Homo sapiens: one gene and its partner. The protein of the gene in region 2 interacts with the protein of the main gene of each other region in a pairwise test. Each region holds a gene or a part of one and is shown on either strand. Other genes may lie near its edges.

The links. Proteins that work in one complex are often made in the same cells at the same time.
Region 1: the proteins of TNIP3 (region 2) and PLSCR3 interact in binary tests that used the Homo sapiens proteins (3 or more experiments, as listed by UniProt).

The regions. Positions count from the first base shown.
Region 1 is NC_000017.11:7,391,726-7,395,729, reverse strand, and holds the start of PLSCR3 (phospholipid scramblase 3), read left to right. Parts: upstream 1-1,204; 5' UTR 1,205-1,253; intron 1,254-1,458; exon of another isoform or gene 1,459-1,462; 5' UTR 1,463-1,619; coding exon 1,620-1,626; intron 1,627-1,893; coding exon 1,894-2,129; intron 2,130-2,220; coding exon 2,221-2,263; intron 2,264-2,365; coding exon 2,366-2,586; intron 2,587-2,751; coding exon of another isoform or gene 2,752-2,777; coding exon 2,778-2,939; intron 2,940-4,004. UniProt on the Homo sapiens protein: Catalyzes calcium-induced ATP-independent rapid bidirectional and non-specific movement of the phospholipids (lipid scrambling or lipid flip-flop) between the inner and outer membrane of the mitochondria.
Region 2 is NC_000004.12:121,140,322-121,143,821, forward strand, and holds part of TNIP3 (TNFAIP3-interacting protein 3), read right to left. Parts: intron 2,456-3,500; coding exon 2,405-2,455; intron 1,594-2,404; coding exon 1,495-1,593; intron 1-1,494. UniProt on the Homo sapiens protein: Binds to zinc finger protein TNFAIP3 and inhibits NF-kappa-B activation induced by tumor necrosis factor, Toll-like receptor 4 (TLR4), interleukin-1 and 12-O-tetradecanoylphorbol-13-acetate.

The DNA of each region.
Region 1 (4,004 bases), on a different chromosome or scaffold from region 2:
AGGCGTGAGCCACCGTGCCCGGCCTAACTATCGCCTTATTGGTGATGCCTTCGCCTTATTGGTGATGTCTAAATAAATATTTATTTATTTATTTATTTATTTTGAGATGGAGTCTCGCTCTGTTGCCCAGGCTGGAGTGCAATGGCGTAATCTCGGCTCACTGCAACCTCTGCCTCCCGGGTTCAAGAGTTTCTCCTACCTCAGCCTCCTGCATAGCTGGGACTACAGGCGCCCGCCACCACACCCGGCTAATTTTTGTATTTTTAGTAGAGATGGGTTTTTGCCATGTTGGCCAGGCTGGTCTCAAACTCCTGACCTCAGGTGATCCGCCCACCTCGGCCTCCCAAAGTGCTGGAATTACAGGCGTGAGCCACCGCGCCCCGCCACGATCTTTCTAAAACACACATTTGACCTTCTTTGTTCTAAAAATGTCTCGGTGGACTCCTCGCTGCTCGTGGGGCCAAATCGCAGCTTCCACACAACCCGCCCTGTATGTGGACTGCACTCCGTTTCTAAACTCATCTCTTGCGCCACTCAGCCAGTGGCCCCCAAGGCAGGACTGGTCCTGGCTCAGGATCCAGTCGAAGACACTCATCTCGGGGGTCTTTTCTGACCGCGCTTCCTCCTCTGGCCCTCTAGGCGGCCTGAGCACGCTCACTGACACCGTTTGGCGGCCTGTCACCCGCGTGGCTGGGGCACCTGCAGAAACTGCTGTCGCTGCGAGGTGCCCGTGTGGGTCACCGCTGTGCCAGGGAGAGAAGACGGCGAGGTCGCCCCTGGGAGGCAGAAGGCGAGCCAGGAGCCAGTCCTGGAAGCCAATGAGTGAGTGTGAAGGGTGTTCCGCTGCGTCAGCGAGGCCCGACTGCCCTTGGGAGGAGGAGCCCAGGGGCCAGCGCGGCCCGGGCCGCCCTCGCCTCCCACCCAGGGCGCTGAGCACGCACGCCGCCGGCCTGGCGGCGTTCGCGGGGCCCGGGACCAGCCGCCGCCTTCTCCAGGCGCTCCTACTCTCTGGGCATCTGCAGTCCGAGCGGAAGGGGCGGGAACGTCGGCGACGCCGAGGAGCAAAGCCCACGATCGGCTTCCCGGGGCAGCGGACGGCTGCCTTCCTCCCGGCGCAAACGCACCGCCCAGGAGGGGGCGGGCTCGGCGGGTCGGGGGGCGGGGCCGGGGTCCGAGCTCGGGCCCGCCTCCGCCTCCGCCAGCTCCTGTGAGCTGCCGAGTGCTAGGCACCCGGGCTCTTCTGGGGGCTCCAGGTGAGCGGGGGCACAGAGGGGTCAGGGAGACCGCCCTTGGGGTGGGGCTGTCGGTCTGACCGCGGGTCCATCTGTCCTGCCGTCGGCCCACAGCCTCCTCCGCAGGATGGGAGAACAAAGGGAGGGGGCGGTTCTGGGGCCCCCGAGGGAATCCAGGGTCCCAGGTACCCGGTCCCGCCCACTGACACTTGGGTTTCTCCCCGAGTCAGAGGCGCCGCCCAAGAGACCCTGGGCCGGCGCCGGGCGCAGCTGCCTCTCCGTCTTTGTGTCTGTCTCTGTGTCTGTCTGGCTATCTCCGAGTTTGCCTCCGCTTCCAGAACTAAGCCACCCAGACACCATCATCTCGAAAACCCCAGCCCTTCTCCCATGGCAGGTAAGTGCGCGCAAGTCTGGGGGTCTCCGTTATCCCCCCCACGGACTTGGGAGCCGGGTTTGAACACATCCTCCCGGAATGTGCTCGGACTGGCTGGGTGGGGCCCCTCCCTTCCTTCCGGGGAACCTCCACCCTGCTCCCCTGCCCCATCTTTCTCTGCCTCTTGCCACCACGTTTCCCCCGAAGCCTCGCGGCCCATGGGCTGAGGAATAAGGGGATGAGGCCTTGAGTCCCTTTCTAATCTATCCTGCTCCCACCGCTTTACAGGCTACTTGCCCCCCAAAGGCTACGCCCCTTCGCCCCCACCTCCCTACCCTGTCACCCCTGGGTACCCGGAGCCGGCGCTACATCCTGGGCCCGGGCAGGCGCCAGTGCCCGCCCAGGTACCTGCCCCAGCTCCCGGCTTCGCCCTCTTCCCCTCGCCTGGCCCCGTGGCCTTGGGGTCTGCTGCCCCCTTCTTGCCACTGCCAGGGGTGCCTTCTGGCCTCGAATTCCTGGTGCAGGTGAGTGGGAAGGAGGGAGGGAGGATGACTGGGAGGGGACTTGGGCGTCCAGATGGGCCAGCTGATGTGCGCGCCGCCCCTCTCTTTCCAGATTGATCAGATTTTGATTCACCAGAAGGCTGAGCGAGTGGAAAGTAAGTAGAAGGAGTGGGAGGTTGGACCTCATGATGGTGGCCCGGATGGTGGGCTCCTGGGCGCGCGAGGCTCTACGAGTCTCCCCGTGTCACCTCGGGCAGCGTTCCTAGGCTGGGAGACCTGTAATCGGTATGAACTGCGCTCTGGGGCCGGGCAGCCCCTGGGTCAGGCGGCCGAGGAGAGCAACTGCTGCGCCCGTCTGTGCTGTGGCGCCCGCCGGCCGCTGCGTGTCCGCCTGGCCGACCCCGGGGACCGTGAGGTGCTGCGTTTGCTCCGCCCGCTGCACTGTGGCTGCAGCTGCTGCCCCTGTGGCCTCCAGGAGGTGGGCGGAGGGAGGGGGCCGGGAGGGCGGGCCTTGGTGGGGCGGGACAATGATGAGGTCCACCTGAGATGAGGCCTGGATCAGGTGGGAGTGGGCAGGTGGGGATGGGAGGTTTAGTGAGGGCCAAATAGACAGATGATAGAGCTGGGACCCCTGCCTCCGCAGTGACCCTGTCTGCTTCCCACTCCCAGATGGAAGTACAGGCTCCACCAGGCACCACCATTGGCCACGTGCTACAGACCTGGCATCCCTTCCTCCCCAAGTTCTCCATCCAGGATGCCGATCGCCAGACAGTCTTGCGAGTGGTGGGGCCCTGCTGGACCTGTGGCTGTGGCACAGACACCAACTTTGAGGTATCAGGAATACTAGAGGCTCTTGGGACCTTCGTAAACCAAGATGATGCTTCCATGAGGCAGGATAGTTAACATTAAGGTCAAGACCCTGAGCTCATCAATCCAAATCCACTGTGACTCCGACCGCATTTGTAGCATTCCTCCATTTGGAAATAGGATGGCCCTGTGCTCTTATAAAAGCATAACAACGAGGATTTCATCTTAAGGAGCAATGCTGATTATTACAAGTGGCCCTGAGATGGGCAGAAAAAAAATCTAAGGCCAGCCTGGATTTGGGGTGAAGGACGATTAAGTCTGTGTGGGCCGGGCCCATGTGGCTGCTGTGTATGAGTGTGTGAGCCCAGGCCCTGGAGCAAGCACGATTTTAACATGTTAACATCCTGTGGCCTGCCCTGCTAAAATAGAATCCAAATGCCCCTGCCATTCCGAAATCCAGTATATCCTTCTCACTGTGCATTCCTGTCACCAGTCTGGAAGCTAGAGATCCCAAGTGGCAAGAATTTCAGAGTGAGGTGAGGCCTGGGAAGCACCTTGGTTTCTAGAAGACAAAGGCACTCCACAGACCCTTGAGTTCTTTTTTTGTTTGTTTTTTGTTTGTTTGTTTTGAGACAGAGTCTTGCTCTTGTTGCCCAGGTGGGAGTGCTATGGCATGATCTCAGCTCACTGCAGTCTTTGCCTCCCGGGTTCAAGCAATTCTCCTGCCTAAACCTCCCGAGTAGCTAGGATTACAGGCATGCGCCGCCATGCCTGGCTAATTTTATATTTTTAGTAGAGACGAGGTTTCTCCATGTTGGTCAGGCTGGTCTCGAACTCCTGACCTCAGGTGATCCGCCCACCTCAGCCTCCCAAAGTGCTGGGATTACAGGCGTGAGCCACCGCACCTGACCGACCCTTGAGTTCTTTAAGGGATAATTGCTTGTGCAGATAAGGGAGAAACAACAGGTATAATCCAGTAGACTTTCCAACGCTTCTAATGAGGTACCCTACCTAAGGTTACTTTGCAAAAATGAGTCACCTTGGTAGCCAGAGGGAGATTCCATGATGAGAACCAATTGGGAATAAGAT
Region 2 (3,500 bases):
AGATGCCTTCTCAAAAAAAAAGAAAAAAGAAAAAAAGAAAGAAAATGTAGGCCATTCTACATGGCTTGGAGTCCTTTTTCAAATATAGGCCTTTATTTGGTGACAATTTTATGTGACCTGGACTGCCTTGCCTTTTTTAATTGACATGGACTGTTTGATGAGCTATAGTAGGTGAATTCCTTCCTTCTTTCCATAAAGAAATATTTGACTGAAACAATAATTTGTACTCCTAGGTAAATGTGAATGACTGATTGGTTTTATAGTTAACCTTTCATAAGAATATTTCTCCAATCCCCCAACCTGTAGAAGCCAACTCCTATAGGTTAATTCACTCCTACAGTAAATTTCTCTTTATGTTTCTCACAATCTGAGTTGACTTCTACATTCTTGAAAAAAAAATTTAATGTTATTGGTAAAGACTGAAAAGTAAGCAAACAGGTAAAGAAAAAAAAGGAAAAGGGGGAGGGAGAGCAGACAGAACTAGCAACCCGCAATAACATGAAAAGACTCAATTCTTAGCGGTGTGCTGTGTCATACCAGGGTCAAATAAGAGATGCTCATTAAATCCTCACATTCCTTCAGCCACCCAAAGAGTCATTATCTCCTCCCTTGGGAAAAGGGTTTTGAGTCACACTCGAACAAAAGTATGAGAACTTTCAGGAAGCCAAGAGAATCATGTTCTCTGTAAGCATTCTGGTAGGAAAATCCCAGTTAAAAATCTTAGATTTTTTCATCATGAGAAACACAATTAATCAAACCTAAAGGGTAGCGGGATTTGTCTGGGTAAATCCAAAATGCAGAAAATGCATATTTTTTTCCTGGATAAATTTCTATCTATGTAGGCAAAATAAAAAGTAGAGGAGGGTAGGTGGAATACTGCTATTGAGAAGGAAAAAAAGGGTGCTTTGGGCCTCACTAATTCAGGTTGACTGTCCAAATCAATTCCCCTCACAAATAATTGCTCAACTCTGCATTTCATTTTGTCTGGGAAGACACAGCCATGGAGAACAACTTAAGTGGGTCACTTTTTCTTGGATCCTTTAAGAAAATCCTTTCAATTGGAAAATGTCAAAATCTATTTTGCACATATGTAGCAATATCCATAGTAGTTCAATATAAATTTACAACCGAACAAAAGCATCTCATTTTTCTTGTTTTGCCATATCCACTTTCCTTTATACATAAATACACTTTATACAGAAAATGTCCTTTGGGTAGAATGAAGTATGCCAATTGAAAATGTTATATGTTGTTCAAGGAATTATTCCCAATTTAATACCTTTCAGTTAATTTATTCGTATCTATGTGTCCTATGGATTCAGTGTCCCAAAGATAATTCTAGTGTACATTGACCACTCCAACTTTGCAAGTTAGAGGCTGAGAGAAAACAGAGGCTCTTGCTGTAGATAATATAATGTGCTGAAATTCCAGAGATGCACATAATTTCTACCAAAACAGTATACTAAGCACTTTTTCAAATGCACTCTTACTTACTGGGTGCTCCCGTTGCTTCTGCACAGCTCCAGGGCCTGTTGGTACCCATGGATCTTGCAGGTGGAAAACCAAGCCGCAGTTACAGGGTGGGCAATACATCTGAGGAGAACAAAACTGTGGGGTCACTACCAGTGGGAGAGACTGAGGAGTTGCAGTGACATTGCTTTATACAAAAGGTTTGGTTTCAATCTTAAGGTTCCACTTAATCTGGCATAATTATAACTCAAAATAGTAAACATGTCAATAGACTCAGGACCAATACAAACGAGGCTCACAGGTCAAGTTTTACCTAAGGTGAAACTATAATCATTTCCCCATTTTGAAGAAATTAGACACACTTGAAAAGTATATAGAGTTAACTTTATGTTTTTGAGTTATCTTTATTGAGGGCCCTCAATGAAGAAAATCTATTCATTGAGTCATAAAATAGGTTTTCTTAAATTGTAGCCAGGGAAAACTAAAATCCAGAAAGGAAATTAGGAATTAGGACAAATAATATTCATTATTTAAGGCTATTAGAGAACCCATGGGATAGAATGCTTCAGTGCTCAAGAAGGCATGTTATTTTTTCAAAAGAGGCAGTATTTGATTTAGTTTTCTACTGTTAATTGTGTCAGCAACTGCATGAAATACCAATGAAATCTATTTCCAGGTGCTTGTGGGTCTAAGGAGCACTAAGACTTGTGCTACTGGTAACATGCTCTATAAAGCATATGCTTTCTATGAGTGTTAGGGTTGAAAGGCCTTGGTGGTGCCTAAGCACTGTCTATCCGTTGATGGTGTAGTCAGTAATGAAAAGCATGGGTTGTTGTAGGTCACCTGTAGCAGAGCTTGAACATGTCTTTAATTGGGACAATGAGAAATGCTGTACATGGGAATAAATGTATGCGTGAAAATTAGATCAACATACCTGTTTTAATTGCTTTTCTAGTTTTTCTTTCTCCATCTGACAAGCTTTTATCTAAAGACAAAACAAAGGCATTTGTTAATCAAGACAAGTTAAAATCATTAATTCCCAAGCCACTCTTGACCTACTCAAGTGTCAGGCATTGACAGCAGTAATACCAACAAAAATAGCCACAAGTTGGTTTTTGCAGACATGCATTGATTCTTAAAATTTCCAGTTGCAGTTTGAAAAATGTGATAGTTTTAAATTGCTATTCCAGTTTTTTGAGGCCATTACAATTCTGTTTTAGGTAGATCTATTTAGATACAGATATAGAAACAATTTCCATTGCTTACTGAATGACATTGGAATTGTCAACCTGACATTCAAAGGCTTCCACAATAAACGTTAGAAGTTATATATGCACTTAATCCATGTCAGAAACTTATCTAAATTTTTTACATGCAATAACTCACTGAATTCTCCCAATCCCTCTATGTGATACTTAATACTATCTCAATTTTATAGATGAGAACACTAAGACATAAGATTCTGAGTAACTTGTTCAAAGTCACACTGCTATATCCCACAGCTTCTCACTACTTAAGGCCCAGCCTCATCTAGATGAATCACCTACCCTGGGTTCCCTTAACTTAAGACACATTTAGAGAAAGCTGGCTTTTCCTTGACTGTTCATTCACATCATTGTCATTCCTACACTCCATGTCCCACATTCCCATAAGGGATGGTCAAATATCCCCTTCTGAATGATACCTTTCCAAGTCCCACTTATCAGAATTATTCTGTCCTCTTATGTAGTGTTGTATATTTACTGTGTGATTTTTTAGACCAATGTGTACTATTTACAGGCAATTCTTGCTGCTTGTGGTGGTCATATTCCATAAAGTCACCACGGACACTGAATTAGTGAATATTGAACCACTGCTCCTAGGAGAAATGTTGGGTTAAGTTTCTGCTAGCCTCTTGTCACAACATTTGTGTCAATGGATCAATACATAACTTTGTTTCATGTGTGTTTCTGATTAAAGACAACTTATTTAATATGTATTGTTGATTAACTCTGAAGTCATGGTCAAGAGTACTATAACATGTCTTAATG